3 separate regions of the Homo sapiens genome follow, and all the other regions are linked to region 3. The links come from fine-mapping of genetic effects on gene expression. A gene starts in region 3. Each other region holds a variant in brackets. All regions are shown on one strand. Distances are between the middles of the regions. Region 1 has its middle 67 kb from the start of C5orf67. Region 2 has its middle 81 kb from the start of C5orf67. Region 3 holds the start of MAP3K1 (mitogen-activated protein kinase kinase kinase 1).

What was found.
Region 1: its variant is fine-mapped to the expression of MAP3K1 in whole blood (TOPMed, PIP above 0.99).
Region 2: its variant is fine-mapped to the expression of MAP3K1 in whole blood (TOPMed, PIP above 0.99).

What each region holds. Positions count from the first base shown.
Region 1 is chr5:56,668,279-56,678,857 of GRCh38, forward strand. No RefSeq gene overlaps it. Among named protein-coding and RNA genes, the nearest start is that of C5orf67, 67 kb to the left of the region's middle. RefSeq lists a silencer at 1,924-2,218 and an enhancer at 2,168-2,217. The variant T/C (reference allele first, on the strand shown) is at 5,041.
Region 2 is chr5:56,682,232-56,692,810 of GRCh38, forward strand. No RefSeq gene overlaps it. Among named protein-coding and RNA genes, the nearest start is that of C5orf67, 81 kb to the left of the region's middle. RefSeq lists an enhancer at 4,377-4,526. The variant C/T (reference allele first, on the strand shown) is at 4,486.
Region 3 is chr5:56,807,594-56,818,172 of GRCh38, forward strand. It overlaps MAP3K1 (mitogen-activated protein kinase kinase kinase 1), which reads left to right and starts at 7,956. Exons shown (of 20, transcript NM_005921.2): 1 at 7,956-8,462. The coding sequence starts at 7,981. RefSeq lists enhancers at 7,184-7,313, 8,765-9,588 and silencers at 7,674-8,443, 8,514-8,633, 8,814-9,053.

The DNA.
Region 1 (10,579 bases), 140 kb before region 3:
TTTCTACATTAAACATGTCAGTTTAGAAGCTCTTCCAAACCAAAAGGTAAGTTCTTTTCCCAAGCAGAATTTTGTCTTCAAACTCCTGCCAATTTTGAGAAGAATTTTTTTCTTGTGACCCCTCCCTCATTAGGCTATGAGATCCTTCAGAATAGAAAATGATGCTGTATCCGCTTCCATAGCCCCAGCACCCAGACTTGGTAGATGAATTATAAATATTTACTGCATACAAGGATCCAGTGCAGAGCTTTGTAAATTCCATTTGTTATTTGTTGAATATATTCACAGGTTTTCTTTTTATGTTAAAATCAAACATCTTAGAAAACCAGCTGGCAAGTACCTGAAGACATCATTTAATCTAATCTTTTCATTTTGTACATTGGGAAGCTGAGGCCAACCTCCATGGTTATACTTGCAGGCAAGTTGCTTAGAGTTTATCCAAAAAAATGATATTTCTGATTGTCAGGGTACTAAATAATTTTGGTAGCATCCCAGTAAGCAGAACAGAGTAAAATTCTCCCAGGGGTTCATGAAGCCCCTGCAATAACACAATGCTACTAATTAATTAATTAATACAATGCTGTTATTTCTGCCAACAGAAATCTCAGAATATGAAAAACACACAAGAGAGGCTAAATGGGAAAATTACTGACACCCAAGCCAATGACCTGAGTCAGAACAACTTTTATCAGAATGAAGCGCAGAAATATTAATATCAAGAAGCTGAACTTTTAAATCAAAGCCAGAAAATGTATTTGCCCAAGGTAAAGGCATGAGCAGAAGGTTTACAGAGAGAAGGACAATGATGATAAGGAAAGCTTGCTTCTTTACAATGAATGCATTGTGACAAACTCGTGAGGCACCAAGCAAGCTGACAAGGGTCCCTTCTTCCTTGCACCTAGGACAGTTTGGCTAAAGGACATCTAGGGTGACACGCCTCAGACAGTCCGCATTAATTTCACATCCTGGAATAGCCCGAAGAACCTGTCCAACCTGACTGTCAGCCTTTTCAAAATCACTTTTGGAATTCTTTGTTCAATCCTGCTTGGTTTACACTGGAACGTCTCTTCTGGGACTTCTCTGGTGACTTGATCTTTGTCCACAATGACATAGCCCAGGAGACCCACCAATACCCAGATTTGCCCAGTGGGTGACACTAATATTAGATCCAATTAGAAGTGTCAATTCAAAACAGATGAAGGACACATTTACACACAAGTCAGGGCTGCCACAAATTCATTTCTTCCTCACAATATCCTCTAGCAGAAAAAAGGGCAAACTGACCTTGAAGAAACCTCCTTTTTTTTATCGGTTACCATGGCAGCATGAACCGTCTCTCCCCAGGGCACCTGCCCATGGGTTTGCACCTGCCAGCTGGTAGCAAGAGTGCACCAGCAGCCTTGGTTCCCAGTGGCTGTGCTCACATCATCAACAAAGGTACCAGCAGTGCCAATTGGCTTCACGATATGGATACCTGCCCGCTAAGCATTGGCCTGGAGCTCGGGGACTTTCACAAAGGCCAGCCAACAGCTGGCAGGCAGGAACCTCCAGGTCATTGTCATCCTGGGCTGAATTGGAACATGCACTTGGGAGACAAAGGCTCTGTCTGTAACCACAGCATCCCTTCCTCCCTGGGTGTTTTATTTTCAGCTCTGGGTCCCCTGCTATGGGAAGGCCATGTGGCTGAAGGTGTCTTTCTTGTTTTTTTTTCCCCCCCCTCCTTTAGCATTGTCCTGCCTTGTGCATGGTGCAGAAAAGCTTTCTCTGTCCCATGTCTAGTTTTATTGCAAATCAGAGAGCTCACCATAAGTCATCCTGGGCCAGTGGGTTCAGAGGTGGAGCTGGTAACCAGAGGCCATGTCAAACTTCCTCCTCTGGCTCCATACCAAGGCCTCGGAGGATTTTTTGTCACATGAGGTTACTGTAGTTTCACATCCTCTAAAGCAAAGCTCTGTCGAAACTCTCTATTCTCACATGGCTTCAGCTCAAACAACCACCCTACTCAGCTGCCTTCCTAACCCTTTCAAGCCGTGAATCAGGAGACCTGGGTTCCAGTTTCAGCTCAGTCTGCGTGCCCCAGAGCAATGACGGGGCCTCAACTTCTTTATCATGAAAATTAAGAGGCCAAAGTACCTTTCACTCAGGTTCCTTTCAACTCTCTCTCCCCTATCTTAAAAAAAAAAAAAAAACAACAGCTTATTTTTCCTGTTGCTTTTAGAAGAAACTCTTAACCTGAGACTCTCTAAAAATGAATAGAGATTATTGTGGTTTAAAAAATAAATGGCTACACACAGCAACCTGACTGTATCTCAAAAATATTATGGTAAATGAAAGAAGCTTCACATACAAAAGAGCTCATACTGTATGGTATTATTAACATGGAATTCAAAAATAGGCAAAACTAATCTACAGTTTTAAAAATTAGAATAGTGGTTGCCTCTGGCTGTGAGGTAGGAGCAGGGATTACCTGGGAAGGGGCAAGAAAGAATTTTCTGAGATGAAGGTTATATTTTATATCCGGTTAGGACTGGGTCACACAAGTAAGCCTTCATCAAAACTCACAGACTGCTACTCTTGAGAGGATCAATAGAGGTAATAAAGCAATTATAGCAAAATATTAATTGCAGGATCCAAGTTGTGAGTAAATGGGTATACCCTGTTTAATTCCTTCAACTTTCCTGTAATTTGGGAATCTTCATACTAAAATGTTAGAAAAAAACACGTTCTAATACATTTCAAAATTCCTGTCTCACTCATTCTCTCCTTTCTTCCATCCCCTCCCTCTTTCTTGACATGTGACCTTCTTTTCCCATTAAATGAGTCAATGGAAATGGGAATATTTATTGATTTGAGCAGTTAAGTCACCAGTGCTCTGTGATGACTAACTACTTTATCATTCATTGCCCATGGCTTTCAAGGGAAGAGGACAAGCTCTGTGCATCTTTCTCAAAGAAAGCGTTCCTACCTGTAAAAGTCTGTTAGAAAGGACTGCAGATTTAATAAGCATCTTTCAAGAGCTCTGTCCCCATTCCAACTCACCCCAACCCTCCAGCCCCAACACATTTGTTAAAAATTCACATTCAGAGATGCAGGACCCTCAACCTTGGACTTCCCAGACTCCAGAACTGTAGGACATAAACCTCTTGTCTTTACTTTAAAAAATAATAATAACATTCAGTCCCTTTTTTGAAGGTTTTTATCAGGATATCTCAAACTTAACACTGAAAGGAGGTAGCAAAATTTCTGTTTCCTCCATGTCTTTGTACTTGTAGAAATGGAGGCACAAAGGTAAGACACAGGTGTGACCAGGCCCTTCGAGTGGTTCAGCTGACTGAATATACACCTAGAGACCCTAAAACAAGCCACAGGGGTGAGAAATCAGAGAATTAGGAATGCGCAATTTAAAAGCACTGCGGTTTCCAATGTGAATTGACTGGAACTGAGGTTAAAGAAGAATTTCAGCATTTTTTGGTCACCAGTTTCTCAATGGACCATTTCCTGTCCTCTCACTGTCAAGTTTAGAGAATAAAACAAACCTCAAGGATGTATCTCTGCTCCACACCCTGTCTCAAGGCAAAGTTAGTGGTCACCAACAGCAAGATAGCACACACTGCATCTACAAATGTATGTGACATATCTTCACATTTTGTGTGTGTGTGTGTGTGTGTGTGACCACAACTTCAAAGAAACGAACAAAAGAAGCAACCAATAATCATAATGAAGAGGTTAAATTTTACCAGAGCCAATTGGGCAGAGAAAAAAAATCCAAAAACACAATGAAAACAAAGAATATTAGACCTGTTAAAAAATAATAATAAAAACCTTAGAGTTCATTTTAGTCAAACTTTTCATTTTGCAGAAAAAGAAACTGGATCTCAAATTTCCAATTTAATGAAAGTTATGTCTGAGAATATAAATCTGAGACCTGATCTCACCACCAGAAAATAGGGTTGGAATTGACCTTATAAATAATATATCTAAGCCCCTCAGTTCACTGGTGAGGAAACTGAGGTTCAAAGAAATTTCAGGGACTACTTCGAGTCCACACTGTTACTTAGTAGGACTAACTCCCATGTGTTTATGCTTCTGAGGAAGACAGCTTCGGTACCTTCCTTCCCTGTCCAAATCCTATCGGCAGCCTTTATCACTCTTTCGTTCTTTGAAATGAGCAGTTGATGTTTTTCTCATGTTCTTATACAAATAACCACCTTAATTCAGCTTAGAGACCCACATCTCCTTTCCAACCAGATTAGTATCCCTTACAGAAATTCAGGCACTGAGTCTCCCTCTGTCGCTCAGGCTGGAGTGCACAACCTCAGCTTACTGCAACCTCTGCCTCCTGGGTTCCAGTGATTCTCCTGCCTCAGCCTCCTGAGTAGCTGGGATTACAGGCATGCACCACTACGCCCAGCTAATTTTTGTATTTTTAGTAAAGACAGGGTTTCACCATGTTGGCCAGGCTGGTCTAGAACTCCTTACCTCAAGTGATCTGCCTGCCTCAGCCTCCCAAAGAGCTGGGATTACAGGCATGAGCCACTGCATCTGGCTACATCCAGGCAATTTTAAATACCTGTCTGTGTTTTATAACCACTCCAAGCTGGTCAGCCTCAAGGAAATCAACTAGGAGAGTTCAGAGTTTTTCCATGTTAAATTCTGACTCTATTTACCAAAGCAAACAAATTAAGGTACTGAAAGACTTTAGTAAACACAAATATTTTTACTTGTGGTTACAGAGGCTTTGCAAGAGCTCTTGTTCTTAGCAGTGATTATGTTGAGCCATTCATTTCATTCACGTAATAGTCTGACAAAATGTGAATGCCTACCATGTGTCCAGTACTTTCTAGGTGATGGAGACGCAGCAGGGAACAAAGTTTCTGCACTCTTGGATCTCATATCTACTGCAAGAAACAGACAAGCAATAAACAAGTATAGCCATAATATGTCAGATATTGATATGTGCCATGGGGAAAAAGAAAGTGAGAAAGTAGGTGAGTGGGTACCAGACTGCAGCAGTAAGGAAGGGTGGTTGCTAATGTCATA[T/C]ATAAGATGGACTCACTGATAAACAGACTTGAAAGAAATGAGGAAGCAAGCGTTGTGTACATCTGGAGGAAGCCGTTTCCAAGCAGAGGGGGAACAAAAGTAAAGGCCTGAAGTAGGAGTGGCATATTCTTGGAACAGCGAGAAGGCCAGGGTGACCAGAGCAGAGTGAGCGAGGAGACAGTGGAAGGAGATGTTGTCTTGAGGCCCAGTTGTGTGGGGCTTTGTAGGACATTGCCGGGGCTTCAGCTTTTTCTCAAAGTGAGGTGGAAAGGCATTAAAAACTGTGGAACCCAGGAGTGACATGATCTGATTTCCATTTAAAAGAATCAATTTGCCTGTGTATTGAGAAACAACTGTAGCTATCTATTATTGGCTACTACAAGACTCCAGGGATAATGGTGGCTTGGACCAGTGGTGGTAGCAGTGGAGGTGGTGAGAAGTAGTAAGATTCTTGGAGGTAGAGCTGACAGGATTTATTGATGGATTGGAAGTATGAGGAAAAGAGAACCAAGAATGACTTTCAAGGTTTTAGGTTGGAGCAATGATATGGTTTGGATCCCACCCACATCTCTCGTTGAATTGTAATCCCCAGTGTTGGAAGTAGGGCTGGGTGTGAGGTGATTGGATCATGGGAGCAGAGTTCTCATGAATGGTTTAGTACCATCCCCCCTTTGGTACTGTATAGTGGTAGAGTTATCATGACATCTGGTTGTTTAAAAGTGTGGAGCACCGGCCGGGCGCGGTGGCTTACGCTTGTAATCCCAGCACTTTGGGAGGCCGAGGCGGGCAGATCACCTGAAGCTGGGAATTCGAGACTAGCCTGACCAACATGGAGAAACCCCATCTCTACTAAAAATACAAAATTAGCCAGGCATGGTGATGGGTGCCTGTAATCTCACCTACTTGGGAGGCTGAAGTAGGAGAATTGCTTGAACCTGGGAGGCGGAGGTTGAGGTGAGTCGAGATGGCGCCATTGCACTCCAGCCTGGGCAACAAGAGCGAAACTGTCTCAAAAAAAAAAAAGTGTGTAGCACTTCCCACCCTCTCTCCTTCTTGCTCTGGTTCCAGCCATGGAAGATGTGCCGGCTTCCCCTTGCCTTCCACCATGATAGGACGTTTCCTGAGGCCTCCCCAGAAGCAGCAGTCACTATGCTTTCTGTATAGCCTGCAGAACCATAAGCCAATTAAACCTCTTTTCTTCATAAATTAACCAGTCTCAGGTATTTCTTTATAGCAGTCTGAGAACAGAGTAATATGGAGCAACTCTTGGGCAGAATTGCCTTTTGCTAGAATGAGGAAGGCTGGAATAGATTCGGGTTGCCAGAGGGGTGAGGAGTGCTCGTGGGTTATGAATCAGGACTTCAACACTAAACATGCTGGGCCGGAGATGCCTGTTAGATATCCAATTAACAGAACTGATTGATACAAGTAATGAAACATTTTATTAGAGATATATCTCAAGAATGCAGTTAGAAACACAATGGAGATTTGTCTCTAGCCTAGAGACATAAATGTTTGTGTCATTAGCATATGGATAATTGGCTTATGGTTCTGCAGGCTATACAGACCCCTGAGACCAGATGAGATCACCTAGTGAGGGTGGATAAAAAAAGACAAGGAAGGACCAAGTACACAATTATTTGCAGGTCATTGAGATGAGGAGAAAGCAGCAAAGAAGGCAGAGGAAGGTACCAGAGAGGCAGACAAAGATTAGAGAGCAGTATTCCCGAGTCAGGTAGGTGGTCAGCTATGCCTAATTCTGCTGATTCTAGAGGCAAGCTGAATTATAAGGGGAAAAGCAAAAAATAGCCACCGGCATCTCCTGCTGTCATATCTACAGTCTCCTGTTACAACAATAATAGCAAGAATAGTAGGAATAGGCCGGGCGCGGTGGCTCACGCCTGTAATCTTAGCGCTTTGGGAGGCCAAGGTGGGCGGATCACTTGAGGTCAGGAGTTCGAGACAAGCCTGGCCAACATGGTGAAAGCCTGTCTCTACTAAAAATATGAAAACAAATTTAGCCAAGCATGGTGGCGGGCACCTGTAATCCCAGATACTTGGGAGGCTAAGGCAGGAGAATTGCTTGAACCTGGGAGGCAGAGGTTGCAGTGAGCTGAGATCGTGCCACTGCACTCCAGCCTGGGCAACAAGGGCAAAACTTCACCTCAAAAAAAAGGAATAGTAAGAATAAAGAACTATCATCTATTGAATGTCTATCATGCCCCAAGGATTGTGCTTCAGTAAATATCACATGTCAACAGTGATGGGTTGGTAGTGGCTACCTGGAGCATTGTGCTGAGAGGGATTCTGAGGCTGCCTCTTTGCTCAAAGGAAAAGGATTGAGCTGTGATATTTGCTATGTATACAATAAGGAATTGGCTTCACAATTGCCAGGTGTTTGTGGACATTGTACTAAGATTTTACGTATATCATCTGAGGAGCTCACAACGCCAGAGTAGTGATATAATTAGCCCCATTTTACTAATGCAGAGACCCAGGTCAGAGAGGTGTACTAACCTCTGCCCAGTGACACAGCTAGATGTGCCAAAGGGGAGGCTTGGCCCAGGTCAGCTGACCTTTGTCCCACACTGCACAGTTTCTCTCTCCTTCTTTCTCCACCCAATCAGAAAAGCACATGGAATTTCAGATCCCCAGGGTGCCCCTTTTCTAATTTAAACTTATGACACAGAAGGCATATAATCAACAGGATCAACATCAAATGCGCTGATTCCTTTAGGCTCAAAGAAAACGTGGTAAGCTAGATTCATGAACTTATTTAGGGACACATGTTTGCAAGCTCAAATACAGGAGAAAAAGAAACAAAACATGAAGTAAGAGTAATAAAACCATTCAAATAGCAAGTTTTTTCAGCCTAGAGCAGTTGAAGATGACACAGTAAGAGCAACCATTAAAATATGACTATTATTTTGTCTTCATCATTCCCATAGCAACCTAGTATTATTCCCTGCCAAAAACTAACTCAGTAGGCACCAAGAGTTCACAGCTCCTCGTTTAGCACCAAGTCCTTCCCACAGTCATTTGTATTAACATTTGCAAAAGATTTATTTCCCTTTGATTCAAATAATTCCACATTCCCAAGAATACCTAGACTGGAGAGTGGCCAACTGCCTGCAGGGCCTGCAGTCATCTCCCCGGTCCAGGGTAGTTCCCTGGGCGCCTGTGAATGGCTCATTGTTCAAGACAAACCCACTGCAGAGAACAGAGAAGACACAGAAGAGGAATTAGTGTCATGTTCTAGAGACTGATCTGGACTTTGAGCAAAGAAACTGCATGCCCATGGCCATCCCCTAAGGCTACTATGAGTCACAGCTATCAGTGCCTCCCAGCCCAGGGCTCCCCTGAGATACAGCTCAGTTCATAATCAATAATCAACACACATCTGGAGGTTTCTAACCCACGTTCTTCCATATAACTAAGCAGAGGGCTAGTAAAGCAGGGCCCAAAATGAAAATCTTCATCATCCTCAAGTATTTGTTAAGTACCAACTGTGCAGGATTAAACACGCTATTCAGGGAAAAGTCTGCAGGCACCTTCAAATAGTCTTCATGGCTTTAGCAACTGACCAGAAATCTAAGAAAGGTGTGATGTTTAGACTCTTATATGATGGAGGCTGGAAACCTAAATCCTGCTCTGAGTTTTGCTACTGAGTTTCTGAATCTATTCTGTATATTCAAACTAATAGAGTACTTCAGAGAAAGGTCTAACTACCCACTTCAAAGTCCATTGAAATCAAAGATAAAAGACTGTAATTTTAGAATTTCTTGGGATTAATCAACCTGTCACCAAATTCAATTGCAGAGTGCAAAAAATGTTTCCTGGTGTAGACTTTCTACATTTAGACCTTATTTGTTATTTCAGCAATATATTAATGAACCACACAATTAATGCTTGATAAGTATAATTTAGTAGCCACAAGCTTATTTTTCAGAATATGGCTATTTTCAAAAAGTTACACTTCTTCGTACTTATTCAGGTCTTTTATTGTCCTTATTTGAGCCTTTTAATAGTCAGAAAACTACATTTCAAGATAAATTTCCATGCCACATTACTTCTCCCAGCTCTCAGAAACCCATCAAAATACATTAGAGAAAATCAATATGGTAATCCAGAAACAATAGCTTAATTCAGTTATGGTCCTGACTTACCCATCTGCAAAAAACAATAGCTATATCTGCCCAAGTGAATATATATCCGACTTTACGCCATGGAGAAAAATAAATCTAACTTGCCAAGACATGCCTCTACCCTTCAACTTCCCTACTTACTATCTACAAGTAAGGCAAAAAGGCTATATGGAGTCTGAACTTCTAACCAATGTACACATCTCAGTCTTCATTGAGGCCATTAATACATTAAAAACATGGATGAAGGGCTATTTGTTGCGTAAAGTCATTTTTCCCTTGACATTTATTATCAGTAGAAAAGTTTTTCTGTTTTAATACCCACATTCTGGCATATAATTACTGTAATAAAGTCTACTTCTGCACTCTGGGTGACTGCTGCCAGTATTATGAAATCATGGCAATGGTTGTAAAAATAAGGGAGGTCACAACCCTTCCACACACACACACACCCACTCTGCAGCTGATATTAAATAGCTCTGGTGGGAAAATGCAGACCTTTAAACTTTCTCTACCAAACTCAATGCATTCTGTATTTAACTTCTTTAAAACAATTTGTGTTATAAGAATTCAAAAACTGCATATGGCCATGGAAAAAAAAAGAAGGAGCTTGTACTTAATTAGCTACTAAGTCCAACTTGGACGAAGCACAATAACAACCATTTCTTTGTGCTAACTATTTTTAATGATATGCATTACATGCATTGGCCTGTCTACTGCCCAGACTGTTCCAGCATCAATCTTGCTTTAGTCTTATGCTTTTGGCAAAGAACAGCATTGGGAAAAGTCTTCATTGTGATGTTTTGCCATTTTGGGAGGGATAACTCCTAAAGCATGAATTCCCTCTGAACTTTAAACTACCAACATGGCTTCATGACCACAAGACAATCAATGTCCAAGCACATCAGAAGCTGTACAAATATTCTCCTTGCACCTCAAACAGTACTCAATATTTTGATTCATCCTCTCTGGGCTTAAGCCGCTTGAATATTTTAATCCAATTGCTTCCAGCTATTCTCTTACATAACTGTTGAATACAATTTTTCTGCTTCCAACCAAGAACCAAGTCAAGCTAATTCAAGATCATGAAAAGGACAGACAGGTCCAAGAGGCAGTGGCCTGTGCATTAAAAAATATATATATATTCTAGTTCTTTACATAATAGGAATTTCCTTAGAAAGGGTCTGTTTTTAAAAGTAGAATCTTGGGTTTCCAAATTAAAATAATCCTGAGTAGGGCTGCTCCTTGAGGGTCTGAAGGCCAGGATCTCCTCTTGCCCTTAGAATGAGAAATCCATCGTCCTCCAAAGCATCACAGAGAATATAGAATGTGGGAGAACAAGATGTCTAAGGACCACAAGAAAACATCAACAGAACACAGTACAAAGAAAACCAAGC
Region 2 (10,579 bases), 130 kb before region 3:
AACCACCCTGAGCAATAAACAATGTCAGGATCACTGAATAGCAAACAATTGTAGGGGACAGATAGAAGTTTTCGCAGTATTTGGAACTAAGTCCCTAAAACATCCAACAGGACCGTTCGTTCTGCTATAATGTGATAGTAGATTCTTAAATATTATGTTTTATCAAAAACTGGGATATTAAGATAGTTGTTTCAGTGGAAGGGGAAGATGATTAGGGTTAGGATTGGAAAGTTTCAGACATGATAACTAACAATAGAGGAGTTTCATAGTTATATGTTATTATCATAACCTAAAATATACATACCCCATTGGTCAAGGTTGACAGAATAAACCCAAGTGTTTCAAACCACACACTCAGTAATATCAGTCTTCTCCATCTCCTTTGGCTTTTATTTTGTGATTCTGCTGATTTGAACACCCAATCTTAAACCAAAGAGAGAAGGATATAAGCAAAAATTCAGAGCAGCTCACCAAGGAAACATGCAACAGTATCTTGCTAGGCTTTGCAGGGCCTTAATTTTCTCTTCCCCCGTGGGGTTCCCGTTCCTCAGTCACCCATTATAATCAAGAGAAGTTGTATAATGCAAAAATGCTCCGAATTAGTAGAATAACTTGTATTATTTTCCATTATGAAAACTCCCAATAGAGGGAAAATGGCTAAACTCCAGGCTTAAAATTCAATTTGGGATTTTCATATCAGTCACTGACTTCCTGGGACCACATCAGCGATGTTTCTGTCAGGAGTCTATGGCCATAGAGATATTAGTCTTGCCCATTCCTGAACAGCCTCTCCAGATTGTTTCCCTCCAAAATGCAGGAAAATGTCCACTGTACAATTTTTTAAAACCATAAAACCTAGTAGAAAGGACCAGAGGCATCTCCTTAAGGTATAGGCATCCTCCAGAGCAAGAATGATTCTAGGGGTAAGGCTGAAGGTGCCTGTGGCTGTACCTTCAGGGCAATTCTTCATGTCACGTGGATCATGGGGATTTGGTGTTTTAAAGGAATATTGTCAACAGGGAAAACTAGCAGGCCCCTTAAAAAGGTGAGAGTGGAAATCTAGTTTAAAAAACAAGGCATCTCGTTCATCTTCTACAGAATTTGCCAAATCCATCCTAGATGAGTGGATGAAAAGTCTTATTTCCATGCCATCAATTAAGGCCATTAATCCTTTCCAGCACTGACATATTGGTCTGGGCTTATTCAGGATTTTGACAAAAAGCTTACACAGCAGGTTTTCTGATTGAGTCATTCTAAGTAATTCTGAGGCCCTGGGAAAGTCAACCTGCTGTATCATTATAACTGCCAGAATGCTAAGTGTGCCACCTGGATGATCTAGACCATCTATGTGACATTGCCAGGAAGCTTTTATAGCACCATCTCACAGATGAGAAAACCAAGGCATAGGGAAGTTAAGCATTGCTATGATCTGAATGTTTGTGTACCCCCAAAATTCTTATACTGGAATCTAATATCCAGTGTGATGGTATTAAGCGGTGGGGCATTTTGGAAAGTGATAAGTTATGAGGCTCTGCCCTATGAATGGGATTCGTGCCCCTATAAAAGAGACTCAAGGAAGCTCCCTTGCCCCTTCTGCCATGTGAAGACACAGCAAGAAGGCACCATTTTGAAGCAGAGAGAGCAGCCTTCACCGGACACTGAATCTGCTAGTTCCTTGATCTTGGACTTTGCAGCCTCCAGAACTGTATGCAATACATTTCTGTTTACAGATTACTGAGTCTAAGGTATTTTGTTACAGCAGCTCAAATGGACTAAGAAAAGTGGCTTCTTCAAGAACATGTGCCTGATAAAGTTGATGAAATCAGGATTCAAACCTAGGCTGTCTGATACAGGCCCACAGGCTTAACCACTACACCACACTGCCTTTCTCCATGTATGCCACAAGGACTTAATATGAGTGGCTTACAAGGACTCATATTAAGTGACTTCCCAGTCAACTCTTTGTGCTCACATCACATCTCCTCAGCCCACCTCTGATTTCAGCCCTGGTTTTGGCATTGAGTTCTAGAAATCTCAGGTCATTTTCTTGCTTTCTGCCTCAGGACCTCCTGTGAAGGTGTGGGAGCCCAGGCAGGCCACTTTCAAGTCAGCTTGGAAATCCTCAAGCAATGAGGCGTGAGAACTGTGAAGAAGTGCCCCAGGCTCCAGCATAACAAAGGACAATCTGGAGACTTTCCATGCACTTCTTAGAACGCCAGGGTAACCATGCTCCCGTTGTCCACAGCATCAGCCTTGATAACATACCCTAATATTTTCCTTTCTGCCACATTCTCTCCATCCCCTCATTCCTGCTTCTTGGGTTCAACTCCTAAATAAACTACCTGCACGTGAGATCTACTGTCGGGCTTGCTTTTGGGGAACCAAACTTAGACATCCTGCCTTTGCAGCTTGATGAACCACACTGTTTCTTGGGGCTCCTTCCTAATCTGTTATTCAGATTTTTACATCCTACACAAATTTTCAGCAACCTGCCCTGAATGAAGTCCATCAGGGCATACATTCCAGAAGGAGCTACTGCCAGTACATGAGACAATTCTCTTGTGTTAAAATTTACCTAAAGGTTCCGGGCTGTGAGTTGCTGAATCTGCATTTCCACCTAGTTTTCCCAGAAGTGGCTGTTCATCCAGGAAGACTTGTTCTGCTCACTAGTCTATACGGAAGGCTTGGCATAGTTCTGTACTCAGTTATCCAGAAAGACAGTTCTGGTCCTCATATAATCGTGTGGATGTGTTTAGAGATTCTGTAAGGTGAAAAAGCAATCTGCCAGTGCATTAATTTGGAGAAACTATGTATTTCTATTTTAAAACTGGAAAATTGCTTTTTAAAATTTGTCATTTCTCCAAATATTTTATTTTTCACTATGCTAAGTGATCCAAATGCATTGTACATTCCCTATGCTGTAGGTACAATTATTGTGCCCTCTAACCACTATAGATGCACAATAAACTCAGAGTAATAAATTAACATTCAAGACAAATCATTAAATTCATGTTCACAATTCCCCCCATAAAGAAAGACTGTAAGCATCTCTTTAAAGGTATGTGACAGTAAGGTTATTTTGGCTTAAGACCAATTTTCAGTGCACAGATCAAGAATGTTACTTATTCTTTTATTTGTTTGTGTTTTAATTGTGGTGAAATATACATAGAATTAATCATGTTAGCCATTTTCACTGTTCAGTTCAATAGTGTTAAGTATATTTGCACTGTTGTACAATGAGTCTCCAGAACCTTTTCATCTTGCAAAACTAAAATTTTCTATCCATTAAACAACTCCTTGTTTCTCCCTTCCCCAGCCCTTGGCAGCCACCTTCTACCTTCTATTTTTATGACTTCACATACTCTAGATATCTCATAGAAGTGAAGTCATACAGTATTTGTCCTTCTGTGACTGGCTTGTTTCACTTAGCATAATGTCCTTGAAGTTCATCCATGTAGTAACTTCCTTTTTAAGGCTGAATAGTATTCTACTCATGCAAATACCACATTTTGTCTATTCATTCATCCATCCGTATACACTTTGTGTGGCTTCTACTTCTTGACTATTGTGAATAGCTCTGCTATGAACATGGGTGCACCAGCAAGTTGCTGTTAATGAAAATGATTCATTCTGTAGTGTTCCTTCCAGCTCACAGTCTTACATTCCTGTTATCAAGAAAAGCTAACTTAAAGTCCTTCTTACTCAGTTATCCACATTTGGAATTAGCTTAACCTGTTGGCCTAACAGTCATGACCCAGTGTAACCACTCATGTCTCAGCACAGATGACAAAACGCAACTTGGCTAGGAGGAAATAGGCTCAGTGGAGGGCTGGCCTTGGAGAACTCATCTTAACAAAGTGGAGACAAAGTTATTTTGGGAGGTCATGTAAGCAGAGTGATTATCATCATGGGGTCTGGGATCAAAATCCCAGCTCCAGCCTTCACTAGCTGTGTGACCTTGAGAAAGTTACTTAACCTCCCTAAACCTCAGTTCCTAATCTCTAAACAGAGGCAGTGATCATAATAGTATGGACATCTAGGAACATGGTGAGGAGTAAATAAAATAATCCATGTTAAGAATTTAGTGTCTGGCATACAGTAAGCGCCCAACAACTGTTAGCCCATATTCTGTAGTTACAGGTCACTGTTCCAAACCCCTCAATTTACAGAGGAGGCTCAGCAAGTTGAAGGAACATTTACTCCTGCCTTCACACGTAGCCATATGCATATGCAGACACAAAGCCACAGAGCTCCGTGTGTGCAAAGACCCCCTGTTTGATTTTAAAACCCTTGTGATCAGGGCTTTACTATCTAGCTATGAAAGTTTGGTTTATCTCAAAACTTTGATTTAAAAAACACGTCAATTAACCTAAGTTTGACCCTGAGAGCCCACAGGCTTAAAAACAAAAGCTAAAAAACAGGAACTGAAAAAGTTAAAAAAAAAAAAAATGTGAGCAAAACTAAGTAAACAGCATGCACACTTTT[C/T]TACTTTTCTGCTAAGAAAATCCTTAACTTTGTATTTCTTGAATCCTGTTTAAAATATATTTGGCTTTCTTTTGCATCAAATGTGGACCATCATAACCATCATCCAAAGACCACTGCACTTTAAATAATGATCCACGCTTTTACTTGGCCTTTCACAGGCTGGAACCAATTACCAAATTTCTCTCCCCACCCCCCCACCCCCACCCACCAGCACATTTCTGCCTTTGCAGCTCTGATTACTAGAGTTGAACACATTTGAGCAGTTCATTAGACAACAGTCCAAAGCTTCAGGGCAACTTGGGGGCCACATTCACATAGAATTCAGAGTTTGCAGCCTGCCAGCCAAGCACGCTCCCTCATGCATGCTGCTGCTGAGCAACTCCCAGTCCCATAGAACAGCCTCCCAGCTACAGTGTCCTCTCTAAATCTCTGGCTCATGGTACCTTTCAAGTACATGGTGAGCTTCCTCTAGCATTCTGGGACACTTTAAGGAATCTACCTGGCTCTTTTTCATTTTTAAATTTTTAAAAAATTATTATGTATTATTATTATTGTTATTTTTTAAGCCAGGGTCTCACTCTGTCATCCAGGCTGGGGTGCAGTGACAGGATCACAGCTCATTGCAGCCTCAAACTTCTGGGTTCAAGCAATCCTCCTGCCTTAGCCTCCCAAAGTATTGGGATTATAGGCATGAGCCACTGAGCCTAGCCTTCTTTTTTTTGATCAGATTTACATTCCTCAATATTCAAGGTTCACAATGCAAAGCAACATTAACGATTTATTTTCTTCTCAGGTTTTGTGTGTGTGTGTGCACACGCATGTGTGTGTAATTTTATTTTATTTTCTAGCTGGAAAGAGGCTGTTTCTCTTGGGGCTAGTCAATTCTTAGAGATGGCAAAGGGCTCAGCCTTTCATATGAAAATGAGCCAATCCAGCCTTTCATAAGAAAACTACCCAGTCTTGCCTGTGCACCCAAGGAGGCAATATTCCTCTGCCTTAATTAACCCAGGGCCAGGTATCAGGCAACTAGGGGCCACCCCTCTATCTTAGAGGCTGCCCCAAATAATTCAAACTAGCCAATCCTAAACTGTCTACCCTGCCCTGCCTTTCTCATGAAAACCCCATTTATTGGGGGCACTGGCCAAATCTTCCCCCAGTTCCTATCTTCTGCTTCCTACCACCCTGGTGTTTTTCCATGTGCCCCTGCATGGCACGACCATGCCTCCTGTCACGAGGACCTGTGAGCATAAACTTTGTTTTGCTGAGCTTCTCCTCTGTCTCCTTTTGTGGCCACAGCTAACTAAGCATCTCATAAAAAAGTGCAAAATATCAGGTCACCCTGCCTTGCTCCTGTTCCTGCCCAAGAACCACCCAGCACATGAGGGGTTAGCAACACAGGCTGGGCATTAAAATCACCTGATTTTTGCACTTTTCTATGCACATTTCTATAAAACTATGGATGTCTAGATATCACTCCAGGCCATCTGAAGCTGCACTTCTGAGGATGCCTCGCAGGGCTCAGCTGTTCCTAGGAACTACTCAGGTGATTGTGATGAATGGCGAGGGCTAAGAACCTCTGCCCAACCAAAACAGGATGTCAGTGTACAGCCCCAGGCCCCACACTCCAAGGGCAGGCCATGTGCAAGATGAATTGCTGCAGAATCCTTCAAGGCATACCAAAAATTCCCATAAGGAGTGACCCCAATTCACCGTTAAAGGGGAAAATGTCCTTCCTCAGCTCATCTAGAAATAAAATCTACAGGACTCATTTCTACTTGGGGTCACTGAAGGCCTGATCCTACACTCCAGCCAACATCACACCCTGAGTGCACATCTTATCTGGCTGAACACTGCTTCCAGCCTGTCCTCATGAGTACACCCACATAACTCCAGTTCACTGCAGATTAAGTCAGAGAGAACCTTGCTATGGTTGGAGCTCTGCAGGAGAGCTCAGGGACTACCAGCAGAGTTCTCTCTAAGCAGCAGGACCAGTCCATGTCAGATGACCATGACCCAGGGAGCAGGCAGACCCCTGAGCATCATCAGCAAAAGATGAGGGAGGCAGACAATGTAGAAGGTATTCAATGGCTGGACTAAAAGCAGCACATACAGGAGGATCATCCCAGTGTAATCAGGGCTGCAAAGAATTAGGGCAGAGATTGAATGTTGAAGCCGGTGCAGGGGGGAAAGACACTGACCAGAGCACTGGGCTCTGGGGGTAAAATGCCTGGATTAAACCCTGGCTCTGACCCATAATTTGTGGCAAGCAAGAAAACAAAAACTCTGTAAGCCTCAGTTTTCTTATCTATCAACTGGGAATAATTGCTTTACTCATAGGGTTATTATGAGGAACAGATGAGATAGTGAGGTTGAGTGCCAGCACAGTAGCCAGTACTCAATCAAATATAACTGTAAAACAAAGGGGCAGTTCCTAAGGCCCAAAATGGAGTTTTAGTCAAAAGGAAATAAGGCAAAAGGCCAGTTACAAGATGGAGCAGGCCCTGCAGTGGAGTTGAAAACCCAGGTCACCATGATGACTGTGGACTATAACTTTGGGTTCCAGTTTCTTTGCAAAAACAAGATTGTCCCCCAAGTCCTAGACAAATTGGGCAGCCGTGGCCTTAGCTACAAAGGTTAGAAAGAGCCAAGCAACCATTACCCTGACTGTCTTGGCACAGGTTCAAAGCTGATGATCACTCACCGGGACTTTGAAAGGCCACTTTCCTTTCAATCCACAGGTCCTTCCCAGTATGGTCCTTCAAGAATTATTTCTTTTTTTGTTTTTTCAACTAACCCCTGGTATTTTCCATGTCCAGTGCCACGCTTCTATCCTCATTCTGGGCAGGGGCCTCCCTCCTGTCTAGCTCTCCAGCCATTTAAGTTTCTCCATCCGGCACTGCCCCGGTTTTGCTCTGTTTCCCCATCAGCCTTCATTCTAGACCCTTCACACAGGCAGCTCCCCAGCCCACAGAGTCCAAAAGCAGGCTTTCTTCTCTACCCTTTCTCCCCACTCTCACCCAGTCCCATCCTCTGCCCTACCCACCCATCCCCGACAAGCTAGGATTTCATTATCCTCCAACTGAACCATATAAAGCCTCCATTTAGGAATTCTCATACATATTTTCATGTTAGCAACACCCACCATCTTCCCTGGAAAGTTCCCATTAGCTTTCCCTTAAGCACTCAAAATACAGTGAGACTTCACATTAACATTTTAACACAGAAACCTCTGTCCTGGCTTTTCGGTTCACTGTCATTCAGGGGGAGGGAAGCATTTTACCATACTCTGAGAATCAATTCCTGAGGTGGAAAAATGGGGACATTTTTCTAAACATGTTTGTTTCTGATCTTCCTTGCTGTCCTCCCCCAGCCTCCCATGAAGCTGATATCCCCATCGGATTGGACCTGCACTCTTGGTGAAATGTTGCTGCTGCTGCTGCTGCTGCTGCTCATGAGAGCAGAGAGATTTTTGTGATCTGTTTCTGGCACAGACCAATAGATCTGTTGTTTTCCATGGCCAAAGCTTGAACTTCTAATCTTGTCCAGCCATTTCATAAACTTGGTTATGAGACCTGTCCTACAGGGGACCAAGCAAGAGAACCATTCGAGAGCATCAGTGTGGCTAAAGATCAGCAGGCCCAAGTGGTAGAAGGTGGCCAAGAGGGTACTGACCCATCAGGCAGCATGTCCTACCTACTACCTGTGCTACAGAATCTTGTCTTCTGCTTATTCTCTGCACTCACACAAAGGAACTCAGTGAAAAAAGCAAATAATGATATGTGATCAGTTGCATTCCTGGGTTAGCCAGTATAGGAAGAACATTGCCTTTTTATAGAGATACCAATTCATAGACCATTTTTAAAGCTGAAAGAGAACACAGGGATAACCTCTCCAACTGCCTTTTTTTTTTTTTTTAACAGATGAAGAAATTGAGGTTTTAAGAGATAAATGGACCGACCAAGGATCACAAGAGCTGAACAGGAACTGATCTCCCTCTTTCTGTACTTTTTCCGTTGCACTACACTATTTACAAATATTATTTACAAAATGCATTTTTAAAATATAAGCGTATGATCAGAGACAGAAAGAGGATGTATTGGTAGAATTTTTTCCTTGAAAATTATTTGTAATGCCATAATGTTTTTACAGGCAATATGCATAGCTGAATTGTTCCTGGAGAGTGATAAAGTACTCAGGATCAAAGAAGTTATTTGGTTGCCAGGAAGAAAAAAGGAAGAAAGTAAAGTTGGATAGAGAAAACCAAGATGGGAGGTTTAAATATGTATTGGGGTGAATATCAGATCAAGGAGGGAAGAATAGGGATGAAAAAGGAAACACATAGAAGAAGGATATTAAAGATCAGGAGAGACAAAAACACTTCCAAGAAACCTAAAAAAGTAGTTTCAATGGTAAAGTGTGAGAATCCTTAATGTTAGCAATTTAAAAACCTGTGAGTCCTAGAAAAGGACAATGGGGGAATGATCTCTACTAAGCAGGTGATTTACCTATTTTCTCACTCCATCCTCACAAAACCCCATTAGAGGTTATTATTATACCTATTTTACAGGCAAGAAACTATGTCTCAGAGAAGTTAGCTTGCCTAGGTTCACAAAATGAAAATGTAGTAAAGCCAAGATTCTAATTCAAGATTGTCACCAAAATCCATCCACCAATCTAGAAGTCATGGCTTTCTTTACATCAGTAGATAGTAACACAAGTAATAGTGCAGAGATTAAATCTTTTCTTAGAGTAACGTTTAAAAAGTAACATTAGCATGTCATATTTGTGCCTCTAACATCACAGCCTGGAAATGCTATGTTCTACTAACCTTTACTTTGGGTCAGAAGAAGTTACTGCCAGGCATTACAGGAACTTGGACTTGGGTTTTGGAACAATCAAAGAGTAACTGATGTGGGAAGTCCTTTAATTCTTCCAGTGATAAAAAGATGATTGTACCAAGGGCTCATGTCCCCATTTCCAAGTGAGACAATGTGAGTCCTCACCTGGCAACTATAGTTTATTTTTTCTACCTCATTTTAATTCAGAGTAGGCTTCAGAAGTCCTAGTAAGTATTCAGTTTCATTTCCTTCATTCTTATGTATTTTTTAAAGTTTGGTCATATTTTCAGTATAACTTAGCTCCAAAAATTCTAATAGCACCTCTATTTAAGAATATATCACAAGGTATCCATATGTTGGGGAAATGATAATTGACTAAAAGTTCAAATTCTCTTGATAATTTTCTGTTCCAAGGAAATTGAGTGTGTGTGTGAGTGTGTGTGTAAATACATATATATGGAATATATAGATACTCATTTAGGAGGTACATTTTGCTTTCTCTTAAGATTACAACATAGCTGGAAATTAATTTAATTTTCTTCATCTCTTGTGTGGTTTCTTCTTTTGTTCTACATATTACTTCTTAATCTCCCTACCCGCAAAGGGGTTATAATAGCAAAGTAACTGAACTGATGCCATTTTTGAAGTCCTAACATGACAAAAGAATTTTAACAGTTATCAGAAGTTGATTTGATAGATTTTAATAGATTTAGTTGATTTCAATGGATTATGATTTCAAACGACAGCAAAAAGGGAGTGAGGAGATTGGAAAGGACGAGAACATCAAATTAACAGAATGGAGTTTCCTCAACTGAGATAACTTTTGTTAAAACTTTTTTTAACCCAAAGCTGAATTTACTTTCTATTCATTTCCACACTGAATTATAAACAACACGTTTTGAGGTGTTGTATTTAGATGTTTTTAATTTGGCCAGTCTAATACACAACCTAAAAAGTTTCCATTAGGGTGCGACAACGCCTAAAAACAAAACCAAACAAAACCTTTTCCTGTTCTGCTTAAGGTGGGTGGATCAAAGAATGTTTAGGCAGATAAGAGGGTTTCAGAGGTCGTACAGTCCCAGTTACCCAGAAGATTATAAAGAAGGATTTTTAAAATCATGGCTGTCAAGGGTTTCTTGTCCAAAAAAGCAAGAGAATTCTCCAAACAATTGTTGGTTAATGTCCAACGCAGTTTGCTACATTTCACATCTTCTCTGTCTTCAAAGGCTACAAATTTGAAACTTTACTGGGTAGGA
Region 3 (10,579 bases):
CCCCTGAAGTGCACTTTTAAGACCTGAGTTTACTACCCCTCATTTTCCTTAAACTTTCCTGAGTCTTCGTTGCAAAACTTTCTGCTTCTTTTCTGCCATTCTATTTTTCTGCCTTTTAGATTCCCAGTTTCCCTGATCCCCTATTCCCGCCAATTGCCCCCAGTAAGAGACTCAGAATATAAATAGAGATAAATTCTTATCTTTTTCTAAAATGAATGCACAATTGAATTCGCAGATGAGGTAGTTTTATTTCAAGGAAGGGGAACTCCCTGTTAGGGAGGGAGTGTTGTGATTAAAGGTCAAATCCTAAGAACTCTTAGACAGTTGGTGTTTCGTAACCATCTAAATCAACTCCTGTTCACTGAGCATCTACTGCATGCAAGGCACCGAGGTAGGGACCCTGTGGAGGTGAGATGATGAAAACGAAATGGTCTCTGCTCCAGGGTCTCATAGGAATTGGAAAATGTGCACACAGACACAAGTGGCTCCAATGCAAGGCAGGCTTTGTAAATATCCAGAGGAAAAGGGCATTGTCTTGTTTTCTCTGCTCCCAGCACCTCTTATGCCTCCCAGAAAAGGGCCTGCCCCTTAGCAGGTGCTTAGCAGTACCTCCCTCGGACCTGGGCAGGAGACTACCCCTGGCCCTGTGTTTTAGAGTACATGATGTGTCACAAATTTGGAAATAGAAATAGACTCAAGAACACACAGCTGCCCTGATCACTGGGATCTAGTGCACAGTGGTGGCTGGGCAAACATCTGCTCTGGCGATCAACACTAGTGAGCCCCAGGGAAGCGCAGCTTCACATGCCTTGCCCCAGGGCCTTCAAATGTCAAAAAGTTTTGTGGATGTTGATGCTGCCACTGATGTTGGAAACAACACCACTTTGAACACAGGGAGGACCTCACAGGTAGAAGTGTTCAGTAAGAGAAGAGAGAAATCCGCTAACTTGTCAAATATATGGGCACAATATATGGGCAATATTAACAACATTTGCACACGAACACTAAGGAATATTTTGCAGTATTAAGCATTATGTGTGACTTAGATTTGTATTTATATAGATTTGACAAAACATTTAAAGTATGTTGTCCATACATTAGCAACTATGTGGCTCTTGAATGCTAGAAGTTCAAATAGTTTTATTTTAATAAAATATTTGATAATCAAATTTTCAAAAGTTTTAGAAGTTCAGCTTTATTTAAATCATTTTTATTTAAAATTTTGATGTTTGTCAAATTTGTATTTTGAATTGATTTTTACCTTTTAATAATGATAGATCATTGGATTGTTTCAAGTGACTGAACACAAATTATGTGAAATATCTTAATATAACAACATAATTAGTAATTTTGTTGAAATTAAAGCTAGAAAATTAATTTCATAAAAAAATTGCAAATTACGTGTCTTTATTCCTCATCCAAACATTGTCAGCCCATTAATGGGCTGCAATTAAATACAACTGTCTTTGATATTTTGTCATATCAGTCATATGAAAGCCATAACTTTACATACAATATTCAATTTTGTCTTTATAAAAGTATACTTATCAAAGTGGGAACCTAGAACATATTTTACTTACTGTTGGCTTACATTTTAACTTTTAAATAATTAAAAATGTTGTAAGGGGCCTCTATCTGTATTCTCACCCCAACCCTGAAAACGTTAGGAAAGGGATTGGCCCAGGGGTAGTGTAGTGAGGGTTTTAGGAGTGAAGTGGATTTAAGGAAGTGTTTTCAGGAGAAGAGGAAAGAGAGCACGATATATTCCTAACTAGGGGCAACTGGTATTTGTGGCTGGAGCCCAGGCCTCAGGACAGGATGTACTATGGTGAGAACTGAACTGTCAATGGTGGAAAGTAAGGGAGATGATAGACTGAGAGTTCCATGAGGGTAAAAGGTCATATCTACTTTGATCTCTAGGGTATGTACAGTGTCTAGCACATAGGAGGTAATGCACTTGATATTTGTTGAATGAATCAAAGAATGTAGATTCCATACTCTATGCAATGTGGAACCATTAAAGGGTTTGAGGAGAGAGGACAGAATCAGAAATGTAGTTGAGAAAGGTAACTCCAACAATAGTGGCTAAAATGTATTTGAAAAGGTAGCTAGGAGAGGTGGAAAGACTAATTTTCTTAGTTATATGTTACTACAGTCATGCACCACTTAATGACTGGAATACATTTGATACATTCCAAGAAATGCATCATTAGGTGATTTTGTCATTGTGTGAACATCATAGAGTGTATGTACACAAATCTGGATAGTATAGCCTACTACACACATAAGCTATATGGTATAGCTTACTGCTCCTAGGCTACAAACCTATATAGCATGTGACTGTGCTGAATACTGTAGGCAGTGTAACACAATGGTAAGTATTTGGGTATCCAAATATATCTAAACATAGAAAATGTACAGTAAAAACATGGCATTATAATCTTCTGGGACCACCATCATATATGTGGTCCCTCATTATGCAGCACATGACTATAATTTATATCCATTGCATTTCTTATTTCCTGAACATACACATGTGGATTATTTTTCTTATATATTAATCCTGACCTAATCAAGCATTTAACAATCCATAAAACTCATTGGTGTTAGGTACTATAGTTCTAGGTCTGCACTGTCCAATACGTCAGCTACCTGTGACCTTTGAGCACTCAAAATGTGGCTAGTCTGAATTAAGATATTAGAAATGGTCAGTGTAAAACACACACCAGATTTCAAAGCGCCAGAAAAGAGAAACTATCTCATTCGTAATACGTTATACATTGATTGATTACTCGTGGAAATAATTTTTTGGATACGTTATGTAAAATAAAATGCATTATTGAAATTAATTTCACCTGGTTTTAAATGTATCTACTAGAAAATTTAATATTATATATGTGGCTTGCACTATATTTTGTTAGACAGCACTCTTCTAGTGCATGATAATTTTTGAAAATTTTTATTTATTTATTTATTTTTAGAGACAGGGTGTTGCTCTGTGGCCCAGGCTGGAGTGCAGTGGTGTGATTATGCACCTTGCAGTCTGGAACTCCGGGGCATAATCCACCGTCCCATCTCAGCTTCCTGAGTACCTGAGACTACAGGTGTGTGCCACCATGCCCAGCTAATTTTTTTTTTAATTTTTGTAGAGATGAGGGTCTCACTATGTCACCCAGGCTGGCCTCAAACTCCAGGCCTCAAGTAACCCTACTGTCTCGGCTTTCCAAAGTGCTGGGATTACAGGCGTGAGCCACTGTGCCCAACCCCATGCCAACTTTGTATACCTCTTTATAGCAGCTTTGGCCATAAAACAATGGAAATCAATTGCAAAGTGAAGGTGCAAATGTTGCAAAAGATGCAGAAGTGAACAGAGCCAATGAAAGTGGTCCTGAACTGCTCAGGTCACATGCAAAGCCTTGTGAATGCAGGATTCAGCAGAGTTGGACCAGGAAGTTGGTAAAAGGAAGAAAAAACTGACAAGGACACTAGTCTAAAAAAAGCAATTGAGTATTACAGGAGGATCTTGGGAAAATGTATGAACCCTTCAAATATTGTTTGCAAAAATGATAGCCCTCACTAAGCCACAAAGGTCAAATGGAAAAAGAGTATCTCAGCATGCATCAAAAAACAGCAACTACGATGGCCATTCAAAGAATTCAGAGAATCAGTGCAAGATTGTAAAGTGAGAAGAATTTTGCTTACTCTGAGGCAAATTAAATTTAATAAGTTGTAGTTGTGTTCTTAAATATAAAATCCCAAGTACTTTTCATTATTTATTACAAAAATTAATTTCTGATTTTAAGAACATGCAAATACATGCAAAATGTTTAGAAGGTTTATTAATAAGAGGGAATCATACGTATCTCTTAAGTATTTTACTTTAGCTTAAAACATATAAACAACAGTGTTTTGTTTTGGTTGGTTTGGGGTTTTTTTGGTCAATATTTGGCTGTAAGTCTTTAGTCTTTAAAATGTGGGTTCACCGTTTAGAGTTCCATGTATCTTTCACATCATCTACAATTTTCAGTTTTAGTTTTTTTAAAGTGACTACTGATAGATACCTGCAAAGTAAATTCTTCCCAATCTTTCATAATGGTCATACCCACAACTAATTTGACAGATTTTTTCAGTGCCTCGCCTCAAATACTTCCTATTAACATATGGTAAAGGAAGAACACCCTTTCAATTAAGCATGTCCTCTGATCATTTTTCTCTTAAAAAATCAGTGTGTCCATATGCAAATGCATAATGACAACCTGAATATTCACATAAGTGATTAAAATAAAAATGACTAGAAGCATCAAAAACTATTGGAAAGACTGGCACTTAGGTTTCCCCGTGGTGGTATGCGGTGGCTGGGAAGAAGTTAGAGAATTGTTAACTAGTTGATAAGTGTTGCACTGGGTACTGCCTCACTTTGATCCCCAGTTTCAATCACTTTTCTCTCAAAGCATTTCACTTCATTTTCACTGGAACAACTTTCTTTTCGCACACACATACTCATGTTTTTAAATTTAATAATCAATTGTGTAATATTTAATTAAATTTCACAAGGAACATTGTAATAGGTGGAATCAAGTTTGGGAACAAGCACAATGGATTCTCATGGGACCCATAACTCACCTAGTGGGAACAGAAGTATGCAGGTGCACACCAGCCGCTGGCCTGAGCATTTATTGTGCTGTATCATCCCTCTGCATGTTGTACACCACACAGTAATGGCTGGTATCTGTTACTGGATGAGTCAGCTAAATGGAGGCTGGTTAAGAGACCTTCTACTATAATGTCATTTACAGTGCCCTTGTAGGGAACCAATTATCCCACTGATGACAGGATTTTCTGACTTAGAACATCTGAAAACACCTGGGAAGTATGTTGTCTGGAAAGAACATGCAGAAACCAAATTCTAGCCCCAGCACTCCTGCAAGTATTCCATAATAAATATTTGTAAGCTTGAAAGAACACCAGCTTTTACCCTATTCTCAAGGTTATATTATTCTTTTATGTTTATCTGAGGTATAGATCTCACAAACAGCCATGAATATGTGAATACATTCACATACTGATGGATCTGGAATTCTACCAGTCAGCCTGATAAATACCCACTAATAAAAATATCTGTAGATTGGAATATTTTGTTTATTCATTTTTGTAGAAATGAAAAACAACAAACAATATCCTCAGAGAAGAAAAATTCCTGCATATGCACAGTAGGTGCTTACTAAATATATGATGAATGATGTACAGGCTGAAATATTTCTCCCAATGTATATTATGTCTGCTCATTCTAATATTTGTGATATTTATGTACAGTGAGGAAATGCCCAGTGTCAAAGTGGATCCTCAACGTGAATATGCTGCAGGAACTGAAGTGTGATGTAGGCAGTTTCCAGAAGCACTATGTGGAGGCAGTGATCTGTAATGCACTGGTATTAAGGTTATTGAAATGGTCATGAAATTGCCATGAAATTGCATGCGTGAAATCATTGCAAGGTTTACGTCCCAGTGAGGATGGAAATGAAGAGCTTGGAAACAGGAATTGGAGCTTTCAGTCTAGAAACAACCTTGGAAGAAATACAAGTCTCCTGAATGTTATTAAATAAATCATATTAAGAGAATTCAGAGCCTACAGTACTTGATATTTGACATCCACCTCTCTGCAGTAACATAGCAGGACTGAAGAGCACCAAAACCAGCTAGAGTCTTAATCACGCATTAGACTCAGAAACTTCTATTAACATATGGCAGAGGGAGAACACCCTTTTCAGTTAAGCATGTCCTTTGATTCTCTCTTTAAGAAATCAGTGTGTCCATATGCAGATGCATAATGACAACCTGAATATTTACGTAAACAAAGAAAAAAATGACTCAAAGCAACAAAAACTGTGGGAAAATACCAACACTTAGGTTTCTCCATGGTAATACGTGGTGGATGGAGGAAGTGAGAGAATTGTAGCTAGTTCATAGTGCTGCGCTGGGTAGCCCTCTCCCTTTGATCCCCAGTTTCAACCACTGTACAAACAGTCAAAAATCAGTTTTGCTGGAATCTCCTTTTTACTCTGCTACTCTGGCTAAAGTCTTCCACTTACTTTTCTCACTTACAGGTACCTGAATATGTGCGTGCAAATGTAAAAGTCTTTAGATCAAAATAGGAACAAGGAAAGTTTATCCGTTTCAGTTTAGGATTTGGTGGGTGTGGCAACCCAGGAAGACCTGAGAAATAACCACTGTTTGGTTTGAATGATACATTTGACTGCCATTAAAATAGCATATAATTATAGCCTAAATGTAGACTTAATTTTTAACAGATTTATCTGAACTTTCAAAATTTGTACCGTTGGGTGTAACGATCTAAAACTATCTTATGGGAGATGTTACAGCAGTTTTCAAATCATTGAGCTAATATGAAATCTGGACTTTTTAAAACCCCTCTGATCTAACCTGGTTACGCAGTTAACATTGTATCTGGGAAAGGGGCTTTCATTTTACCTAGTCTCCAGAAGTCAATGGAATTATTCTGTAAATAGTTCAGGCTTTTGTCTAAATATGTGAAGACTGACAAGACTATCTCCGTGAGAATCCGCACCCCCCCACCCCAACCTCCCCCCTCCTTAATCATGTTTCACAAAGTAAATCTATAGACGTTCCTCCTGGGTTTTGGGAGATTCCCCATCCTAAACAAACCAGCTGGAGGAAAGGAAAGGAAGGAAGAAATAAACGCAACACAGAAGTTCTCCTCAGTTGACAAAAGGTCAAAAATCATTAACGTGTAAATGTTGCTTTTTCCATCCCAAAGCACCTTCTCACGTAGAGTCCAGGGACTAGGAGGACTCACAACGCAGCGATGGGCAGCCAGGCCCTGCAGGAGTGGGGACAGAGGGAACCCGGCCGGTGGCCCGACCCTGCAGGGAAGAAGGACGTGCGGCGAGAAGCATCGGATTCGGGGAGGGCCGGGACCTGGCCGAGGGTGACATTACCGAGCACTTCCTGGCACAGCGCTGGTCCCCTCCCCAAACGCGCTATATGTGGTTCTGTACGGGACTGCCTTTCCCAAAGACAGCCAAGGAAAAACTAAAGATCGACGGGGACACCCGCCTCCCTTCCTCGCCCCAACGGTTTCTCAGAGGCTGTGGGGACTTGGTGAGGGTAGGGGGTAGTTGTCCCAAATCAGCAGCTTCAGGATGTAAGGTATTACAGAAAACTTTGAAGTTTTGTTATCTGTAGCACAGGGACAGGGGTGGGACAATAGAGAAGGAATGTTTTCTTTTCAAAAGAAAACACAAACAAAACTTTATTTTTCTGGTCCGCGGCAGCCTGTCTGCTGAACGTTGACTTGCTTTCGCTTTGCAGCAGGCGACGGTCCCGGGCGCCACCTGCGCGTCGGTGGGAGGCTGGTCCACGCCCGGGTCCCCCGACGCCCACTGCAAAGGGCAGTGGGAATGACAGACTGTAAACCCTCTCGCCTGCGTCCCCTTCAAGCACCAGAAACCCAAGTTGGAACTAATTCTTTCTTTCGGAAGGTGCAACTCCCCTCCCGCGAGCTCCGCGGTGCCGGGCCGAGATTGCCGAGAGGAAGCGGCGCAGCGCTGCCGCCAAGGCTCCTCCTGTCGCCGGTGCGGCCGGGACTACCTGGCGGCGCGGCGCGTGCAGCGCGCAGAGTCCCGGGAGCCCACGCCTCCGCCTCCGCCCCCGCCCCCTCCGCCTCCCAGTCCACCTCGCCCGCCCGCCCTCTCGCCCGGCGGAGAGCACAGCCCACTCCCTCCCACCTGCGGCCGCCGGGCCGCCCTCCACCCACACCTCTGCCGCAGGCCGGACCCAGTGCGCCCGCCCGTCGGTCAGTCCAGGCCAGGCGCCCGGCGGGCCGCGCTCACGCAGTTGGCGCAGGAGGCCTTACGCTGGCGGCGCAGTGCCCGCCCCCTGCGCTCTCCCCGCCCCCTCCCTCCCTCGCAGGGGCCGAGCGAATGTAGCCCGCGAGAGAAAATGGCGGCGGCGGCGGGGAATCGCGCCTCGTCGTCGGGATTCCCGGGCGCCAGGGCTACGAGCCCTGAGGCAGGCGGCGGCGGAGGAGCCCTCAAGGCGAGCAGCGCGCCCGCGGCTGCCGCGGGACTGCTGCGGGAGGCGGGCAGCGGGGGCCGCGAGCGGGCGGACTGGCGGCGGCGGCAGCTGCGCAAAGTGCGGAGTGTGGAGCTGGACCAGCTGCCTGAGCAGCCGCTCTTCCTTGCCGCCTCACCGCCGGCCTCCTCGACTTCCCCGTCGCCGGAGCCCGCGGACGCAGCGGGGAGTGGGACCGGCTTCCAGCCTGTGGCGGTGCCGCCGCCCCACGGAGCCGCGAGCCGCGGCGGCGCCCACCTTACCGAGTCGGTGGCGGCGCCGGACAGCGGCGCCTCGAGTCCCGCAGCGGCCGAGCCCGGGGAGAAGCGGGCGCCCGCCGCCGAGCCGTCTCCTGCAGCGGCCCCCGCCGGGTGAGCAGCACGGCCGGGGTCGCGGCGGGGACTTGGAGAGCGGGCAGAGGGCAATGAATGAACCCCGGGCACCATGCACGGCGTCCCGGGGTTCAGCGCAGCGAGGCTACGCGCCGCTCGCCGGGACCTACGCCCCTGAGCACCCCCCGACCCCTTCGGAGTCGGGCGGCGCCCCGGACCCAGCCTGGGGGACCGGACGGGGACGTGCGGAAGAGTTTGTTATTGTTTGCAGACATGTGACAGGCGTGCGAGCCTCTCTGCGGGGAACCGTTGCGAAAAGGTGTAGGGGGCCACGGCTGGCTTTGTGGGACTCCTGGAATCGGGGCTCTCCGAGGAGCCCGGGGGCGGGGCACGGCCCTGCGGCGGCGCCCCCGGACGGGTGTCCCCGGGGCAAAGGCACTGGGGGGCGAGGCCCGAGCCTGAGGCGGGCGGTGGTCGGAAGAGGGGCGGGGTGGGTGAGAAGCCCGAGGTCGGGTGGGAGACTGAGAGGACCGAAGAGAAAGTAGCAGGTCCCAGCGGCCGTGACAGGCAGAGCCCCTCGGCCCGCCCGGGACTCGAGTCCCTAGGCAGATACCGCGGGCTGGGCCCGGACGCAGGCGGCGCGCCCCCAGCGCCGGCCGCAGGGCTCCAGGAGGACGGCTCGGTAACGCCTGTCAAAGCCGTGCGGCGGGAGGCTGCACACTCGCGGAGGCTTGCAGTCTTTTAGGAAGTGCGGTTTGTCTAATTGCAGCCCCCAAGGGGCTTTGAGTGTTCCTGGGAATGCGAACTGCACTGCTAAGTCACTTGAGTGACTTCTGTTTGGAGTTTGAATTTGGCCTTTGAAGTTTGCATTTGGCGGAGTGGTGTAAGAGCCAGGACCGGATGTGTCAGCCATTCAGTTTCAAAGCAGTGGTGACTGCTCCCCGCAGCCCCTCCGGCTTGGCCCGGGGACTGCGGCGCGGGTGCAGTGCTTCCTGCTCGGTGCCCTGGCGCGGGCCGCCCGCTGAATTCCAGGGGCCGCAGTGCGGTGGGCTTCGGCTCAGATGCGTCTTCTGGTGCATATGAAGTACAGTATGTGTAAGGTAATTTAGACCAGCGGTTTATTGGCCTCGCCCATTTTTGGCTACTGGAAATTTTTATGTTAAAGGAAATTCTTTTAAGTGTGACAGCTACATCCTTGTTTGTTTGTTTTTTAAAAACCTGATTAACGTATGCAAAGTACAAAGTCTTGATGGGTATTTTGAGTTGCTGGAAATGTTTTTGTGATAGTCCCTCGTGGCCCTGTAGAATTCCCTGACCTTTATTATGAGAAGAAAGCGTGTCATTTTGTGAGACGAATTTGACAGTAGGAGTCCTTGGTTTGGATTCATTATCTAAAGTGATCTGGCATTTTTTGTGCATTTGATTATTTGCTTAAAATCACGATCCATTTAGTATTTGGAAGTCCCCTTCCTCTCCCCAAGAACTAAAAAATATGCTTCGCACTGTACCATGGCACTACTGAGACCAAAGGAGATTTGTGACTGATACAGTTTTGTGTGCACTTGTACATGTAATTTATTCTTACAAGAGTTATGTACCTCTATAGTTTTCCCATTTCTGTGCAGATTGTATTAAAACTTAACTGGAATAATTCTTTGAAGGCAACTTCTACTTTAAATGAATTCCAGATAAAAATTTTTAACCCCAAATTTAAGAAATTGTATCTATTGAGACCTAACTTTTTGGATACAATAAATAATTTAGCAAACGTCAGCATTCTAGTACTCTTAATGAGCTGTGAATATAGTAGAAGAGCATCCACTGTAAAAATAATGTACTGAAATTGTTTAATGTTGTCTCTTGACACAAAATAAGAGGACTAAGGTGGAGGCAGATAGAATTTAGGGACTAAGTAATCCATGCTTAGTATTTGCGTTTTGTAACCGAGGTTTTTTCCCCTTTGCTTAAGGTGTAGATTATAATTGCACAGTATAAGAAAATAATGGGCTTGTAAGGATAATCTTTTTTAAAGAAATTATTTTTACGAGTCAGAATGCTGTTGGTTTATCCCAAATGTCATACGTAAAGATTTCATTTATAGTAAAATGTTGATTCCCTAACCTTATGAAATATAGTGAATTTTTTTTTCTTAACAA